Linked DNA regions of Homo sapiens: regions 1 and 2 are each linked to region 3. The links come from fine-mapping of genetic effects on gene expression. A gene starts in region 3. Each other region holds a variant in brackets. All regions are shown on one strand. Distances are between the middles of the regions.

The links.
Region 1: its variant is fine-mapped to the expression of CELSR1 in unexposed skin (GTEx, PIP 0.93). The same link has a PIP of 0.9 or more in sun-exposed skin.
Region 2: its variant is fine-mapped to the expression of CELSR1 in whole blood (TOPMed, PIP above 0.99). The same link has a PIP of 0.9 or more in blood mononuclear cells.

Annotation. Positions count from the first base shown.
Region 1 is chr22:46,511,992-46,517,229 of GRCh38, reverse strand. The region is part of intron 1 of CELSR1 (cadherin EGF LAG seven-pass G-type receptor 1); the gene reads left to right. Among named protein-coding and RNA genes, the nearest start is that of CELSR1, 23 kb to the left of the region's middle. RefSeq lists enhancers at 1-94, 2,043-2,959. The variant T/C (reference allele first, on the strand shown) is at 2,400.
Region 2 is chr22:46,364,170-46,369,322 of GRCh38, reverse strand. CELSR1 (cadherin EGF LAG seven-pass G-type receptor 1) reads left to right here. Exons shown (of 35, transcript NM_001378328.1): 27 at 65-144; 28 at 1,468-1,594; 29 at 2,205-2,330; 30 at 2,843-2,937; 31 at 3,634-3,737; 32 at 3,943-4,092; 33 at 4,587-4,811; 34 at 5,072-5,153. Among named protein-coding and RNA genes, the nearest start is that of TRMU, 31 kb to the right of the region's middle. RefSeq lists an enhancer at 1,358-1,417. The variant G/C (reference allele first, on the strand shown) is at 2,126.
Region 3 is chr22:46,535,116-46,540,353 of GRCh38, reverse strand. It overlaps CELSR1 (cadherin EGF LAG seven-pass G-type receptor 1), which reads left to right and starts at 2,734. Exons shown (of 35, transcript NM_001378328.1): 1 at 2,734-5,238. The coding sequence starts at 3,184.

The DNA of each region.
Region 1 (5,238 bases), 23 kb after region 3:
GGAAAATGGGCCAAGCCCCTTCAGGGGCCAAACTTGCACCTGGCAGCTCCATGCTCTGCAGCTGGGAAAACTGAGGCAGTGGGGGATGGGGAGGTGGTTTGTATACCTCAGGGGAATGATCCATTGGGGTGAGAACCTGCCCTGGCCAGAGCCAGACCCTCTGGATTCTTCCCCCAGAGTCACCAGCCTCAGGAAGTGGATGAGCCCAGCTCATCCCTTATGGGTGATAAAGGTTCCTTTGCTTTAAAACACGAAAAGGGCATCCCATGGCTTTGCCAGCCGTGACACTGGTTTAGGTGGGATTCTGGGCATGGGTCAGTGGGGGTCAGCTGCAGTGGGAAACGGGGAGGGAGGGTGAGGGGACAGCCCTCGGCCGCCTGCCTTCCTGCCAGTCCCCACCCCGCAGCTTCCTGCCTGGCACAACATAGGGTGTTGCCTGTGTCCTGAGAGAGTCGTGTGCCTGGGTGAGAAGTGGAGGGAATGGACTTTGTGGTCCGTTGGGCCGGAGGAGCCACATAACATGAGCTGGTCGAGGAAATTACCTGGGAGGTGTCAAGGTGGCAGCAAATGAGCTTTGAAAAGTATGTCCTGGCCAGGTGTGGTGGCTCATGCTTCTAATCCCAAGCACTTTGGGAGGCGAGGCAGGAGGCTTGCTTGAGGCCAGGAGTTCAAGACCGGCCTGGGCAACATGGCGAGACCCTGTGTCTATAAAAAAAAATTTTAAAAAACCCCCCAAAACCGGTGTGCTATCCCTCCCCACTCCCCCAACCCCACAACAGGCCCCGGTGTGTGATGTTTCCCTTCCTGTGTCCAAGTGTTCTCATTGTTCAGTTCCCACCTATGAGTGAGAACATGCGGTGTTTGGTTTTTTGTCCTTGCGATAGTTTGCTGAGAATGATGGTTTCCAGCTTCATCCATGTCCTTACAAAGGACATGAACTCATCATTTTTTATGGCTGCATAGTATTCCATGGTGTATATGTGCCACATTTTCTTAATCCAGTCTATCATTGGTGGACATTTGGGTTGGTTCCAAGTCTTTGCTATTGTGAGTAGTGCCGCAATAAACATACGTGTGCATGTGTCTTTATAGCAGCATGATTTATAATCCTTTGGGTATATACCCAGTAATGGGATGGCTGGGTCAAATGGTATTTCTACTTCTAGATCCTTGAGGAATCGCCACACTGTCTTCCACAATGGTTCAACTAGTTTGCAGTCCCACCAACAGTGTAAAAGTGTTCCTGTTTCTCCACATTCTCTCCAGTACCTGTTGTTTCCTGACTTTTTAATGATCGCCATTGTAACTGGTGTGAGATGATATCTCATTGTGGTTTTGATTTGCATTTCTCTGAACTCATTCCTACTTTCTTAACCCCAGTCGACTGTGCTGTGGATGCTGGTCAGTGCTGGAGATCTGCAGGATGGGCGGAATGTCCTGGTGTATCCTCCTGCCGGGGCTGCCTTCCTACACTGGCTGCTGGGAGCCTGTTACACAGATAGGAGCCTGCCAGGCTGGGGAGGCCCCAGTGACTTAGTCATCCCCTGATCCCCCAGCAGGACTTACAAAGCCTCAGCCTCTGTGCCTTTGAGTCCCCAGCCCTGAGCACTGTGTGACTGAGGCCCGTCCTATTGGCTGTGTCCTCCACCTCCAGCCCCCGGGGTGCCCTGCAGCTTGTGCACACCCACTCTGCATCAGGCTCAGCCCTCCCAGAGCTGACTTCACCATGGAGACACAGACTGTCATGCTTTCCTATTTTCTGTCTAAGGCCTTCATAGAGTTTGTGTTTAAGGTGAGCCTCTTTCCCTTTACCCTGATGAAACATGTGCAAACCTTCCTACCTGGGGGTCATGTGACTTGGGAGCATCCACTCACAAGCTAGCCTTTGTGATACGCACTGAGACCGCTGGGCTGTGGTTCCAGCTGTGCTGCCGACAGCTGTGCAGCTCTCCCCAGGAGGGCCCAGGTGGGGGTCACTTGCCTGGCTGTGGGCTGGGAGTGGTGGGCAGGGCCATGAGGTCCCAGAGTGTGGCCAGAGGGCTGATGCACGGGTGGAATGGCTCCTACTGCCCATGCTGTGTCCCATGAGTGTCCCCGGGGGGGGTTGGCTCTGCTGGGACGCTGAGGGGGGTCCACGCTGCCAGACAGCCTTTTCTCAGCCCAGGCTGAAGCTGAGGGGGTGCTGGGGGTGCTTTCTAGAAGGGGCTGGCGAGGACTAGGCTGGTTGCCAGGGCCCAAGAGGGCTGGGGTTTGGACAGAGCCACTTTTGTGGGGAGGCATGGAGTTTGGAGCGGATGCCAGCTGCAAAGAGCACGTCTGAGGTGCTCATCCCCCAGGCCTGAGGGCTGGATTGACGGCGGGTACGGACAGGCATCCCTGGGGTGGGAAGGGGTGGCAGC[T/C]CCAGAGCTTTTCCCGCAGTGACTTGTGCTTGCTGACTTGGGAATGACTCAGCGAGGCAGGACAGGGCTGGGCAATTCATTCAGAAACACCCCTCTTATTCCAGAGCCCAGCCGTGAGCCTCGGCCCTGCAGCCCCGGCTCCCTCCGGGGAGTGACTCTTCTCTTTGATGCTGGGAGGAGGGACCACAGAGTCTGGGGAGGTCTGGGGAGGTGCTGAGAGGGGCCATTGCATTATCCCTGACTTTCAGCAAGGGTCTGGCGGTGATACACAGATGCTGTTGGGGTGTCCTCAGGCCACATCCTTCATGCCCCCACTCCCCACCTCACCAGGACTGGTTCTGACTGACTGGCAGCCAGAGGTGTGTGGCCTTGGGCCCCCGGGGATCAGAGTGCAGGTGGACCTGACTCCAGCCCTCACCTGGATGGACCGTCGGGGCCTGGTGAAACGTCTGGGTGGAAGAGCTTCAGCATCACATAGGCCCGCAGTTGAGGTGTGGCTTAAATAATCACCCTTCAGAAATGCCGGCTCCATTGTGAGTAGTCTCGCTTACTGGGTTTTTGACACTGTCATCTCGAGGACTGGGTGGGATTCCCCTGGTGTTGGAGCCTACCTGGGTGGGAAAGACCCACAGTCAAGGTCAGATGATTCTGACCCCAGGAACCTTTCCCAGGTGGGTGCTGGGATGTGAGAAAAGTGTAGACAAGACAAGTAAAGAGCTGTGAAAAATTACAAATGAGGGCCGGGTGCGGTGGCTCGTGCCTGTAATACCAGCACTTTGGGAGGGTGAGGCGGGTGGATCATGAGGTCAGGAGATCGAGACCATCCTGGCCAACAAGGTGAGACCCCGTCTCTACTAAGAATACAAAAATTAGCTGGGTGTGGATGCGTGCACCTGTAGTCCCAGCTACTCGGGGGGGGCTGAGGCAGGAGAATGGCGTGAACCCCGGGAGGCAGAGGCTGCAGTGAGCTGAGATTGTGCCACTGCACTCCAGCCTGGGCGACAGAGCAAGACTCCGTCTCAAAACAACAACAACAACAAAAAGTATTAATAAACTTATCTATGGCTTTGAGCTTCTGGGCCATATTCCAACCAGTATTTATTAGGAGGCTCTCTGCGCAGGTGAGTGTTGGCTCTGGGGATGTAGTGACGGAGTAAACAGAAGTGTTGCTGCCCGTAGGAAGTGCACACTGCAGGGCTGGGACTCCTATCCCTGGTGCACGAGATAAGGGCCAATTATAACAGTGTACAGGCAGTGTCTCATTATGGTAAACCTAAGGCCTCCCCACATTGATCTTGGCTCCTAAGATTTTATGGTTGAGAATATTGCTTGAAATACTCAAGTTGCAACTTGAAGTGTGTTGGATTGCCTCCCTTTTAGTGTACATGTTTTTGTGTGACTGCATTGGACTTCTTGGTATGGTCAGGTATGTGGGCTGGTTTAAGTGTCCTGTAAAACTCAGGACCCCACGTGGGGAATGCTTTTGAACTTGTATTTTTAATCCTCTTGCACACTTACAGGCCATGTTGCCTCTCGTGATCATGAACACTCTTCCCTGTGTTGCCTGATAGTAGAGGAATAAAGGCCGTAGTTGGATACCGCCTTTCCTTGAGTGTTTCCTTCATGTGTTCTGGCTCACTGCAGCAGCGTTGAGCCCACATGGCCTAGTCCCCAGGTGTATTGTCCCCAGTCGCGTGATTTTGAGAGGCGCCCGTGATGGTGGTCGCGGGTTTGAATCTCGCCCCAGAAGTCACTCACTGGTTAAATGGCCTCCTATTCACTCCACTGGGGAGGGATGGATTCCCGTCCTAGGATGATGGGGATTGCTGAGCACCTGACACTGGACAGATGAGGTCAGCAGCAGTGCGTGAGTAGCACAGAGGCCCAGCCTGGAGGAGGACGTCGCCTGCCATGCGGGGCCACCCGGGGCAGCACTCAGGAGCAGAGGACAGCCAGGTGCTGTGGGGGACAAGCCCGGACCCGGAAGGAACAAGAGGGTGGGGGGCCCCTGGTTCTTGCAGGGGCACATGGGTAGCTTGTCTGAATAATTCCTCTGGATGGCAGGGAACGGAAACCCGCTACCCTCTATAAGCAGGAGCTGTGCCTGATCCCCGTGACAAGAAGGGTTGACTGTGGAGGGATCTTATCCGAAGGAGCAGAGTGGGGCGGGGGACCTGTGGTGAGGCCATTTGAGGCCTCCTGGCTTCAGCAGATGTCAAGGCAATGCATAGTATTGGGCCTTGATTTTTTGTTGTTGTTGAGATGGAGTCTCACTCTTTCACCCAGGCTGGAGTGCAGTGGTGTGATCTCGGCTCACTGAAACCTCCGCCTCCCGGGTTCAAGCAATTCTCGTGCCTCAGCCTTCTACGTAGCTGGGATTATAGGTGTACACCACCACACCGGGCTAATTTTTTTGTATTTTAGTAGAGATGGGGTTTCACCATATTGGCCAGGATGGTCTCGATCTCCTGACCTCATGTGATCCGCCTGCCTTGGCCTCCCAAAGTGCTGGGATTACAGGCATGTGCCACCGCACCTGGCCAGTATTGGACCTTGATTTGGGGGCTGACACCTCAGTCCCTGAGTGCTTCTTGGTCCTCCTCTGCAAATCCGGGACACCTGCCCCTAGCTGTGAGCCCTCGAGGGCAGCACGCTTAGTAAGGGCTTATGAGCGCCGCCGTCACTCTTGCTGCTGCTGTGTTTGCCACACTGAGAGCTCCTGGCAGCGTGGGGGCCACTGGGCTGGGATCTGGGGGTGGGCTCGGGGCACTTCAGGACCCCAGAACCTGAATGACTTGCTGCGTTTCTCGGAGGCAGCATGAAGGACATCCTGGCAGAA
Region 2 (5,153 bases), 170 kb after region 3:
TTTTGGCAGTTGGAGGTCTGCAGTGACGAGAGAGAAGACATTGATCGGCTTGTTTTGTTTTCAGATCAACACAGTCACTTCTGTCCTATCTGCAAAGGTTTCCTGCCAAAGAAAGCACCATTATTATGGGAAAAAAGGGATCGTGTAAGTGGGGCTGAACCTGACCGGCCAGCCATGTCGGCTGGGCCCTGAGACCCCGACGTCCAGTCTCTGCGGGGTGGGGCCCCATGAGAGCGTGTAGGCCTCATGGAGGAGGGCTGGGGGCAGCCTGGGTGAGCCCCAGGGCTCCAGAGAGGTTTGCCACGTTGCACCTGCAGGGGCTGGGGGAGGTTAGCTGAGGGGAGGGGGCTGGAGGAGGTTAGCTGAAGGGAGGGGGCTGGCAGCCAGTCCTGGGCCTCAGTCCCTCCCGCCTGGCACAGAAGTATTGGGCTGTCTGGAATCCCCAGAGTGGAGATGGGTGGGGTGGGGGAGATGAAACTTTCTGGTGGGTGGTGAGGGTGTTGCTGAGGCCACTGGAGGGGAGGAGACCCCCCCACCCCACTGTCAGAGGGTGCAGTGGAACAGGGGCCCAGCACAGAGGGAACCTCCAGTGTTCTAGGGAGGAGAGGGGACCTTCGAGGCCCCAAAGGAGCAGGTGGCACCGCGGGAGGACTCAGCACAGCGTCCAGGAGCCACGACAGGGTCAGGAGGGGTTGACGGGGGCATCTGTCAGACAACAAGGCCAGCCCCTGGTGACCTGGTAGCTGAGATGGGACTGAGCCAGGGATGGGCGAAGGGATAATGCTTGCGCAGGGGCTGGGTGTCAGGAGGAGTGTGAGGCTCCCGGCCCGGGAGGAGAGAGCCGAGTCTGAAGGGGGGTAGGGCAGAGAGGGAGAGGCAGTGAGTGGCCTGGAAGGCCGGATATGGGGGTGCACGGGGGGTCTGGGGCCTTGTCAGTTCCTCGTCTTCAGTGCCATCCACGACCTGTGGACCTTGCGGGCTCTGTCACCCGGATTCACTCCATCCCCTCTGAACCCTGGGAGGGGATGCGCCTTTGTCTTCCCCTTGTACACATGGGGAGACTGAGGCAGAGCTCAGGAAGCTGATTGCAGGGTCACAGCTCAAGGGCAGGTCCTGGGCTCTTCCTCTTGCCTCTCCACAGGGTATCTCACGGGAGCTAGTGCAGCCATGGGCATGGCTCAGGCCCCTTGGCCTGGTGTAGTCCTCACAGCTCCTGTTTTCTCATTTGCTTCCTAATGTATTCCACCACCACCCCCACTAACACGAGCTCTGTCTGGTTCCCGGATGAGTCCGTACCTGGCTACGAGGGGAGGAAGGGAGCAAGGTGGATGATGGCTGGGTGGACAGGTGGACGGACAGATAGATGGGCGGACGGGCAGGCAGGTGGACAGGTGGACGTGCAGAGAGGGAGGGAGGAAGGGAGCAGGTGGTGGCGATGGGCACAGGCCTGATCCTGCCCTCCCGCAGCTCCCTGCTGAGGACCGCATTCCTCCTGCTGCTGCTCATCAGCGCCACCTGGCTGCTGGGGCTGCTGGCTGTGAACCGCGATGCACTGAGCTTTCACTACCTCTTCGCCATCTTCAGCGGCTTACAGGTAGGTGACGGCCGAGTTGCCCGCGGGACCCCTGCCTGGCCGCCGTGACACCATCGCTGTGATGCGAAGCAGTGGAGGCCTCTGCGGTCCCAAACCAGCCCTGCCTGGGTCCCGCGTGGGGGCCTCCTGTGGCTGTGAGGACTCAGTCCCTTGTGCAGCCGGCACGGGGGCTGGTGCCTCCTCCCCACTGTGTCTGGGGACGATGACCCTAGTGCCAGGCCAGCACAAGTCCACTTGTGTCTCCAGGGAACAGAAGTGGCCATTTCTAGTCATACCAAGGGCCACACAGCAAGTGGACTTACGACACAGTGGGGACCCCAGAGGGGCCCCAAGGACTGTGGAAGGAGTGCCCAGAAGACTGGCCTGAGCCGGGGCCCTCACTGCCTCCAGCACACCGGGGGTCTGGCCCAGGCATCTCAGTTTCTGAGCTCCCCCACCTGGCCTCCAGATAGCAGCAGTCCCTGAGGAGGGGAGGCCTGGCCGTGTCCTGGGCCGTGTGGCCGGACATGTTGTGTGCACTCAAGGCTGTAT[G/C]CGCATCTGTGCTGGGGCGCCTAAGGGCAGGTGCCTAGGGAGGCAGCAGCAGGTGCTGACCCCACCTTCCTCCCTCCAGGGCCCCTTCGTCCTCCTTTTCCACTGCGTGCTCAACCAGGAGGTCCGGAAGCACCTGAAGGGCGTGCTCGGCGGGAGGAAGCTGCACCTGGAGGACTCCGCCACCACCAGGGCCACCCTGCTGACGGTAGGAGGCGCCGGGGACACCGCGGGACTGGGGGCTGGGCGGCATCTCGAGGGGCGGGGGAGGGTGATCGAGCCTCAGCCCCAGTCCTGCGGCCCGTATGCCCCTCACGGTGGGGATGGCAGAGCCGCCCGCGGTGCACGGTGTGGCTGCCGCGTCAGAACCAGAAAGTGACAGAATCGGCCAGATGGGGCCTGGGTCGCATCCTAACCCTGCTCTTCCAGGCCTTAGAAAGAGAGGGTCAGGACCACCGAGGATCCTGACCAGAAGCAGTGGCCGTAGGGAGGGCGGCAGCCCCTGACCACAGCGCGGGCCAGGATGTGCTTCCCTCAGCTGCCAGGAGGCTCTCGTTTGCAGTGAGGGTTGACTGCTTGGGGCCAGCTCCTCCTGTGTGCCAGGCAGGGGCCCAGCCAGGGTGTGGGTGTGGGGGGCTTGCCGTGGGGACAGAGTCATTCCCCGTGGTGGTCATGTGGTGGCCACCACTTGGCAGTGACCAGCCCCTCCCCTCCCTTCAGCGCTCCCTCAACTGCAACACCACCTTCGGTGACGGGCCTGACATGCTGCGCACAGACTTGGGCGAGTCCACCGCCTCGCTGGACAGCATCGTCAGGTCAGGCCGCAGCTCCGGGTTCGGGGAGGTGGCTCTCGAACTCCCTCAGGTTTTGCCCCTGCCACCCCAACCTGTGTCCTGCCATTCAACCAACATCACCTTCCACCCCCAACTTTCCACCCGCACCTTCTTCCCACCCGCAACTTCCCTCCCTGCCCCGCACCTTCCCTCCCCGCCTCGCACCTTCCCTTCCCCTGCACCTTCCCCCAACAACCTTTCCCCCACCAACTTCCCCCAACCAACCTTTTCCCGTGCAACCTTCCCCCCCGCACCTTCCCCGCACTGCACCTTCCCCCCGCAGCCTTCCCCCCTCCACCTTCCCCCTCCACCTTTCCCCTGACAACCTTTCCCCCCAACCTTTCCCCCAGCACCTTCCCCCCAACCTTTCCCCCCACCACCTTCCCCCCCAGCCTTTCCCCCCACCACCTTTCCCCCACCCAGCCTTTCCCCCCACCACCTTCCCCCACCCAACCTTTCCCCCCACCACCTTCCCCCACCCAACCTTTCCACCCACCACCTTCCCCCCACCCAACCTTTCCCCCCACCACCTTTCCCCCACATACTCGGGAGGCTGTTTTGTCTGTGCTGTTGTTGGGAACACAGAAGGGGTAGGGGCAGAGAATCTTCCAGAGAACTTTCCAGCACCTCCTGTTCCCTGACGGATGATACTGAGCCCACCCTCCCTGGCCTCTCTAGGGATGAAGGGATCCAGAAGCTCGGCGTGTCCTCTGGGCTGGTGAGGGGCAGCCACGGAGAGCCAGACGCGTCCCTCATGCCCAGGAGCTGCAAGGATCCCCCTGGTATGGCTTCCCTGGAGGGGGAGGACCCCGTGGGTTGTTTTTCCCACGTCCCTTCGGTCACTGGACAGACTGCCCCTGAAGAAGCACTAGCAGCCTCGCCATGCTCAGCGTCAGCATGCCAGGGGCCCAGTGGCTCTGCTTGGCCCTCGGTGGGACTCCCTCACCTCCCAGGGCCTGAGCCTCCCTGTCCCCCGCGCATCCACAGGCCACGATTCCGACTCAGATAGCGAGCTGTCCCTGGATGAGCAGAGCAGCTCTTACGCCTCCTCACACTCGTCAGACAGCGAGGACGATGGGGTGGGAGCTGAGGAAAAATGGGACCCGGCCAGGGGCGCCGTCCACAGCACCCCCAAAGGTGAGTGTGTGGGGCACATTGGGCCAGGCTGGGCTGTGGACAGCGGGCTCGGGGCAGGCCTTGGCTATGGCTGGGTCCCTTCCTCCCAGGATATGCCCAGCAGCACTGCAGCCACATGAAAGGACAGCCTGGGGTGGGGGGACTCTGGTTGGGCTCCCCCACAGCCTCTGGAGGGCTCCTCCAGGCCAACCCCCTGAGCGGAGGCAGGAACTCTCAGGGGGGTCTCTGTGGACTGTCACCGCAAGGTCCAGGTGAGGCTGCCAGTGGGGGATTAGCCTGTATAGTTACTGGTACAGATGCGGCGGGGGCTCCCAACAAGGGCCCTGCTGCCAGGACTCGCCCTCCTGGGCCTCAGTTTCCCCACCTTTAGGGTTCAGCCCTACCAGGCCTGCAGGTTGGGGAGAGGTGGGTCAGAGCCACCAGACCCATGGCTCTCAAGGGAGCAGCTCGAGTGGCAGTGCCGCTGCCTGCTGAGCACCGCTCTCGTGCCTCAGGGGACGCTGTGGCCAACCACGTTCCGGCCGGCTGGCCCGACCAGAGCCTGGCTGAGAGTGACAGTGAGGACCCCAGCGGCAAGCCCCGCCTGAAGGTGGAGACCAAGGTCAGCGTGGAGCTGCACCGCGAGGAGCAGGGCAGTCACCGTGGAGAGTACCCCCCGGACCAGGAGAGCGGGGGCGCAGCCAGGCTTGCTAGCAGCCAGCCCCCAGAGCAGAGGAAAGGTGCCTGGGGAGGCCGGGGCTGCAGTGAAAGGCTGGAGGACCCAGAAGGGCCAGTCCCTGGTCTGGAGGTGGGAGTGGGGCTGGGGCTGGTGGGGCAAGTCAGGGCCTGGGCAGAACAGACGTGGCCTCCTGGCCTAGCCCTGGGACCCGGGGAACCAGGAGGAAGGACAGGGGCTGAGGCTGGCTCAGCTGCACACGGCCCAGCAGCTGCCCCCGGCAGCATCACCCGGACTTGACCTTGCCGTGTCTCCTCCTCCCAGGCATCTTGAAAAATAAAGTCACCTACCCGCCGCCGCTGACGCTGACGGAGCAGACGCTGAAGGGCCGGCTCCGGGAGAAGCT
Region 3 (5,238 bases):
AATAAATAAAGTAAAATAAAATAAAACTGTGGACTCTAAATAGGGTGTGGTGGCTCATACCTGTAATCCTAGCACTTTGAGAGGCTGAAGTGGGAGGATCTCTTGAGCCCAGAAGTTTGAGATCAACCTAGGCAACATAGCAAGACCCCATCTCTATTTAGCAATAAATAAAAATAGGCCAGGCACGGTGGCTCATGCCTGTAATCCCAGCACTTTGGGAGGCCGAGGTGGGCGGATCACGAGGTTGGGAGTTCGAGACCAGCCTGACCAACATGGAGAAACCCCGTCTCTACTGAAAATACAAAATTAGCCGGGCGTGAGGCGCACGCCTGTAATCCCAGCTACTAGGGAGGCTGAGGCAGAATTGCTTGAACCTGGAAGGCGGAGGTTGTGGTAAGCTGAGATCGTGCCATTGCACTCCAGCCTGGGCAACAACAGTGAAACTCTGTCTCAAAAAAACAAAACAAAACAAAACAAAACAAAACAAAAAAAAACAAAAACTGCCGACTCTAGATGCAGGCATAGGGAAAAGTACGCAAATCATGTGTTTGGAGTTCAAAGTGTGATCATGAAGCCGACACTCTGGTAACCCTCAGGTCCAGAAGGGGATGCCCCTCCTCCCCCAGAGCCCTCCTGAATGTGCCCATAATCACCTCCTTGTTTTTCTTCATCTTTCCCCTATTTGTGCACACCTCTAAACGTTATGGTGGAGTCGGGCTTGCTGTCGGTCTAAGCGTGAATGGAATGATCTTTTGTCTTTGCTGGACATCCTGTTAGTGAGATTCATCCATCCTCCCCTGTCCCTAGGTGTTGGGCAGTCCCTGTGGTTACCTCGCAGCCTGCAGGTGCCTTATTCCAGAAAAGCAGGCCCACACCTGAACCCACTGGCTGCAGCTGAGTTTTGTTTATTTAAACCCAACCCACTCTGCTTAAAGCCTTATTGCAAAACAGGCACTCCTGGGGTTCTCTGGTTTTTCCTCCTGCCTGGGTCCCCTTCAGGTCCGCCCAGTAGCCTTCCACTGGGAGGCTCCGGGCTCAGGGACCCGCCCTGCCTTCCGGCCCCAGAACTCCTGTCCTTTCATCCTTCCCGGAAAAATCCCAGTGGAAGGGTATATGGCGGGTGGGGAGGTCCTGGACCGCTCACATTAAGGAGACGGACTTTTCTCCTTCCTCCCCTCCCTCCACACACACATTTCCCAACAGGACTCTCCAGTGGAAACCTCGAATTAAAAGGTTCCAAAGCAACTCCACCTTTTAGATCAATATAACGTGTTCAAATCCTTGCTACTGGGAAGAAAATGCTCACATTGGGCTTCAGCACAAAGACACTGTTTCAGCAGCTTTGAGCGAAGTTGGCTGAGTATGCGTGTGACACACACACAGACACATCGCTCCGGGGGAGAAACCCTTCCGGTTCTCCACAGCCGCCCACGGTCCTCGTTGAGACTGGACTCATCTCAGCTCAGCTCAGAGATTTGGCTGCAGGATCCGACCCTCCCTTGCCAAAAAGACCCGTTCTAGGGGTGACTGCGCATTACTCCCACCCCCACCGCTCCGACCGGCCCCAGGAGAAGCCCTTCTAGGAGAGAAGAGGCGACCCCCACCTACCGTCCCCGACCACTGGGAGGCCTAAGGGCTGCACTGGACTCCGGCGCCCCGAGCGCCACCAAGGGAGTGCGCGCCCTTCCCAGCCGCTGGTGGCACAGTCCCAAAGCCCCGCCCATGCGGGGGGTCGCCAAGTCCTAAGCCTCCACCCCCTTTATCCCTGTGCCCCATCCGGAGGCAGGTGTACCCGTCACGCAAACCTAAAGCTGCCCCCGGCCCCCCGTGGTTCCCCGCAGGAGGCGGGGGTGTGTGTCACTTTTCTGAAAGCTCTAAGGTCTCTGCCCCCCGCCCCCCGCTGTCCTCCGTAGGAGGCTGGGCAGGGGCTGTGGCACAGCTCTAAATCCCTGCGGGTGCTTGCTTGCCCCAGGCAGCTTCCAGGACCCGCAGCCCCCCGCCTTCCCCGCAACCCGCTTCGGGAGGAGCCGGACGCTCGGGGATTCCGCGATGCGTCCGCGAACGCTCGGGTCGGGCCGCACGCGGGAGATGAGCGCGCCTCCGCCGTCCTCTCCAAATCCCTTATGTCAACCGGGGTTTTCTTCTTTCATTTAAAAGTTGCGCTTTAAACCAAGTGGGACGCAGATCCGGTAGCTGCCTATTGGGCTTCAAAGTCCAGGGAGTTTTAGTCGGGGTGAAGCATTTTAGCCTCCGTGCGTCTTGCTGTAAAATGGGTAACCCTCCTCGACAGCCTCCGCAGTCCTTAATGGGTGGGGGGGGGCTCCCCGGCCTCTCGGCCCCAGTCCTCCGCCCCCGGGTCCTACCCGCGCGGCACTCCTGGCGGCGGTCTCCGTGGATCTGTTCTGCCGGGGTGGGGAGCCAGGCTCTGAGCCGCGGCCCCGAGCCCGAGGTGCGGAGCCACCGCCCCACGGGTAGCGGCCACCGGGGGCCCCAGCCCCACCTTTCCCGGCCCTGTTGCCTCGGCCCCGCCCCACCGGGAGGCTGGGTGGGGAGGCCTCCGGGGAGTAGGGCCCCAGTCCCCGTCCCGGCCGCGCCCTCGCGTCTCCATAGCGATCCTCTCGGCGCGCACCTCCGAGCCGGCTCCCCCCGGGGCCGAACAATACGCCGCTGGGCCGGGGGCGGGGCGGGGCCGGGCCGGGGGCGGGGAGAGCGCGGGCGGAGTGGGCGCGGGCCAAGCGCACCGCCCAGGCAGCAGCCGGCCGCCGGGGTCTGCGCGGCGCGGAGCTGCCCAGCCCGCTCCGGGAACTCAGCCCCCGCCCCGCGCCGGGCCCGCCCCGCTTCCCACGCCCGTCCGGCCGAGCCCGCGCCGGAGCCACCTGGAGCCGCCTGGAGCCGCCGCCGCCGCCGCAGGTTGATGCGCGGCGCCCTCCCGGGACGCGCGGAGGAGCCATCTTGAAACCAACTTCGCAAACTTTCGCAAAGTGCTCTCGAAGTGGAAGCTGCGGGGGAGGCCGGGCGCGTGGTCCCCACAGTCCCCGCCAGGGCCCCCGGGGAGGCGGGACGCGGACCGCCCCGAGGGCCGGGCGCCCGGGAGCCGCTCCCCGGCCTCGCCGGGTGGATGCGGAGGCGCGCCGGGTGCATGGATTGTGTTCGGGCGCCCGGCTCGGGCTCGGGCTCCGGGCCATGGCGCCGCCGCCGCCGCCCGTGCTGCCCGTGCTGCTGCTCCTGGCCGCCGCCGCCGCCCTGCCGGCGATGGGGCTGCGAGCGGCCGCCTGGGAGCCGCGCGTACCCGGCGGGACCCGCGCCTTCGCCCTCCGGCCCGGCTGTACCTACGCGGTGGGCGCCGCTTGCACGCCCCGGGCGCCGCGGGAGCTGCTGGACGTGGGCCGCGATGGGCGGCTGGCAGGACGTCGGCGCGTCTCGGGCGCGGGGCGCCCGCTGCCGCTGCAAGTCCGCTTGGTGGCCCGCAGTGCCCCGACGGCGCTGAGCCGCCGCCTGCGGGCGCGCACGCACCTTCCCGGCTGCGGAGCCCGTGCCCGGCTCTGCGGAACCGGTGCCCGGCTCTGCGGGGCGCTCTGCTTCCCCGTCCCCGGCGGCTGCGCGGCCGCGCAGCATTCGGCGCTCGCAGCTCCGACCACCTTACCCGCCTGCCGCTGCCCGCCGCGCCCCAGGCCCCGCTGTCCCGGCCGTCCCATCTGCCTGCCGCCGGGCGGCTCGGTCCGCCTGCGTCTGCTGTGCGCCCTGCGGCGCGCGGCTGGCGCCGTCCGGGTGGGACTGGCGCTGGAGGCCGCCACCGCGGGGACGCCCTCCGCGTCGCCATCCCCATCGCCGCCCCTGCCGCCGAACTTGCCCGAAGCCCGGGCGGGGCCGGCGCGACGGGCCCGGCGGGGCACGAGCGGCAGAGGGAGCCTGAAGTTTCCGATGCCCAACTACCAGGTGGCGTTGTTTGAGAACGAACCGGCGGGCACCCTCATCCTCCAGCTGCACGCGCACTACACCATCGAGGGCGAGGAGGAGCGCGTGAGCTATTACATGGAGGGGCTGTTCGACGAGCGCTCCCGGGGCTACTTCCGAATCGACTCTGCCACGGGCGCCGTGAGCACGGACAGCGTACTGGACCGCGAGACCAAGGAGACGCACGTCCTCAGGGTGAAAGCCGTGGACTACAGTACGCCGCCGCGCTCGGCCACCACCTACATCACTGTCTTGGTCAAAGACACCAACGACCACAGCCCGGTCTTCGAGCAGTCGGAGTACCGCGAGCGCGTGCGGGAGAACCTGGAGGTGGGCTACGAGGTGCTGACCATCCGCGCCAGCGACCGCGACTCGCCCATCAACGCCAACTTGCGTTACCGCGTGTTGGGGGGCGCGTGGGACGTCTTCCAGCTCAACGAGAGCTCTGGCGTGGTGAGCACACGGGCGGTGCTGGACCGGGAGGAGGCGGCCGAGTACCAGCTCCTGGTGGAGGCCAACGACCAGGGGCGCAATCCGGGCCCGCTCAGTGCCACGGCCACCGTGTACATCGAGGTGGAGGACGAGAACGACAACTACCCCCAGTTCAGCGAGCAGAACTACGTGGTCCAGGTGCCCGAGGACGTGGGGCTCAACACGGCTGTGCTGCGAGTGCAGGCCACGGACCGGGACCAGGGCCAGAACGCGGCCATTCACTACAGCATCCTCAGCGGGAACGTGGCCGGCCAGTTCTACCTGCACTCGCTGAGCGGGATCCTGGATGTGATCAACCCCTTGGATTTCGAGGATGTCCAGAAATACTCGCTGAGCATTAAGGCCCAGGATGGGGGCCGGCCCCCGCTCATCAATTCTTCAGGGGTGGTGTCTGTGCAGGTGCTGGATGTCAACGACAACGAGCCTATCTTTGTGAGCAGCCCCTTCCAGGCCACGGTGCTGGAGAATGTGCCCCTGGGCTACCCCGTGGTGCACATTCAGGCGGTGGACGCGGACTCTGGAGAGAACGCCCGGCTGCACTATCGCCTGGTGGACACGGCCTCCACCTTTCTGGGGGGCGGCAGCGCTGGGCCTAAGAATCCTGCCCCCACCCCTGACTTCCCCTTCCAGATCCACAACAGCTCCGGTTGGATCACAGTGTGTGCCGAGCTGGACCGCGAGGAGGTGGAGCACTACAGCTTCGGGGTGGAGGCGGTGGACCACGGCTCGCCCCCCATGAGCTCCTCCACCAGCGTGTCCATCACGGTGCTGGACGTGAATGACAACGACCCG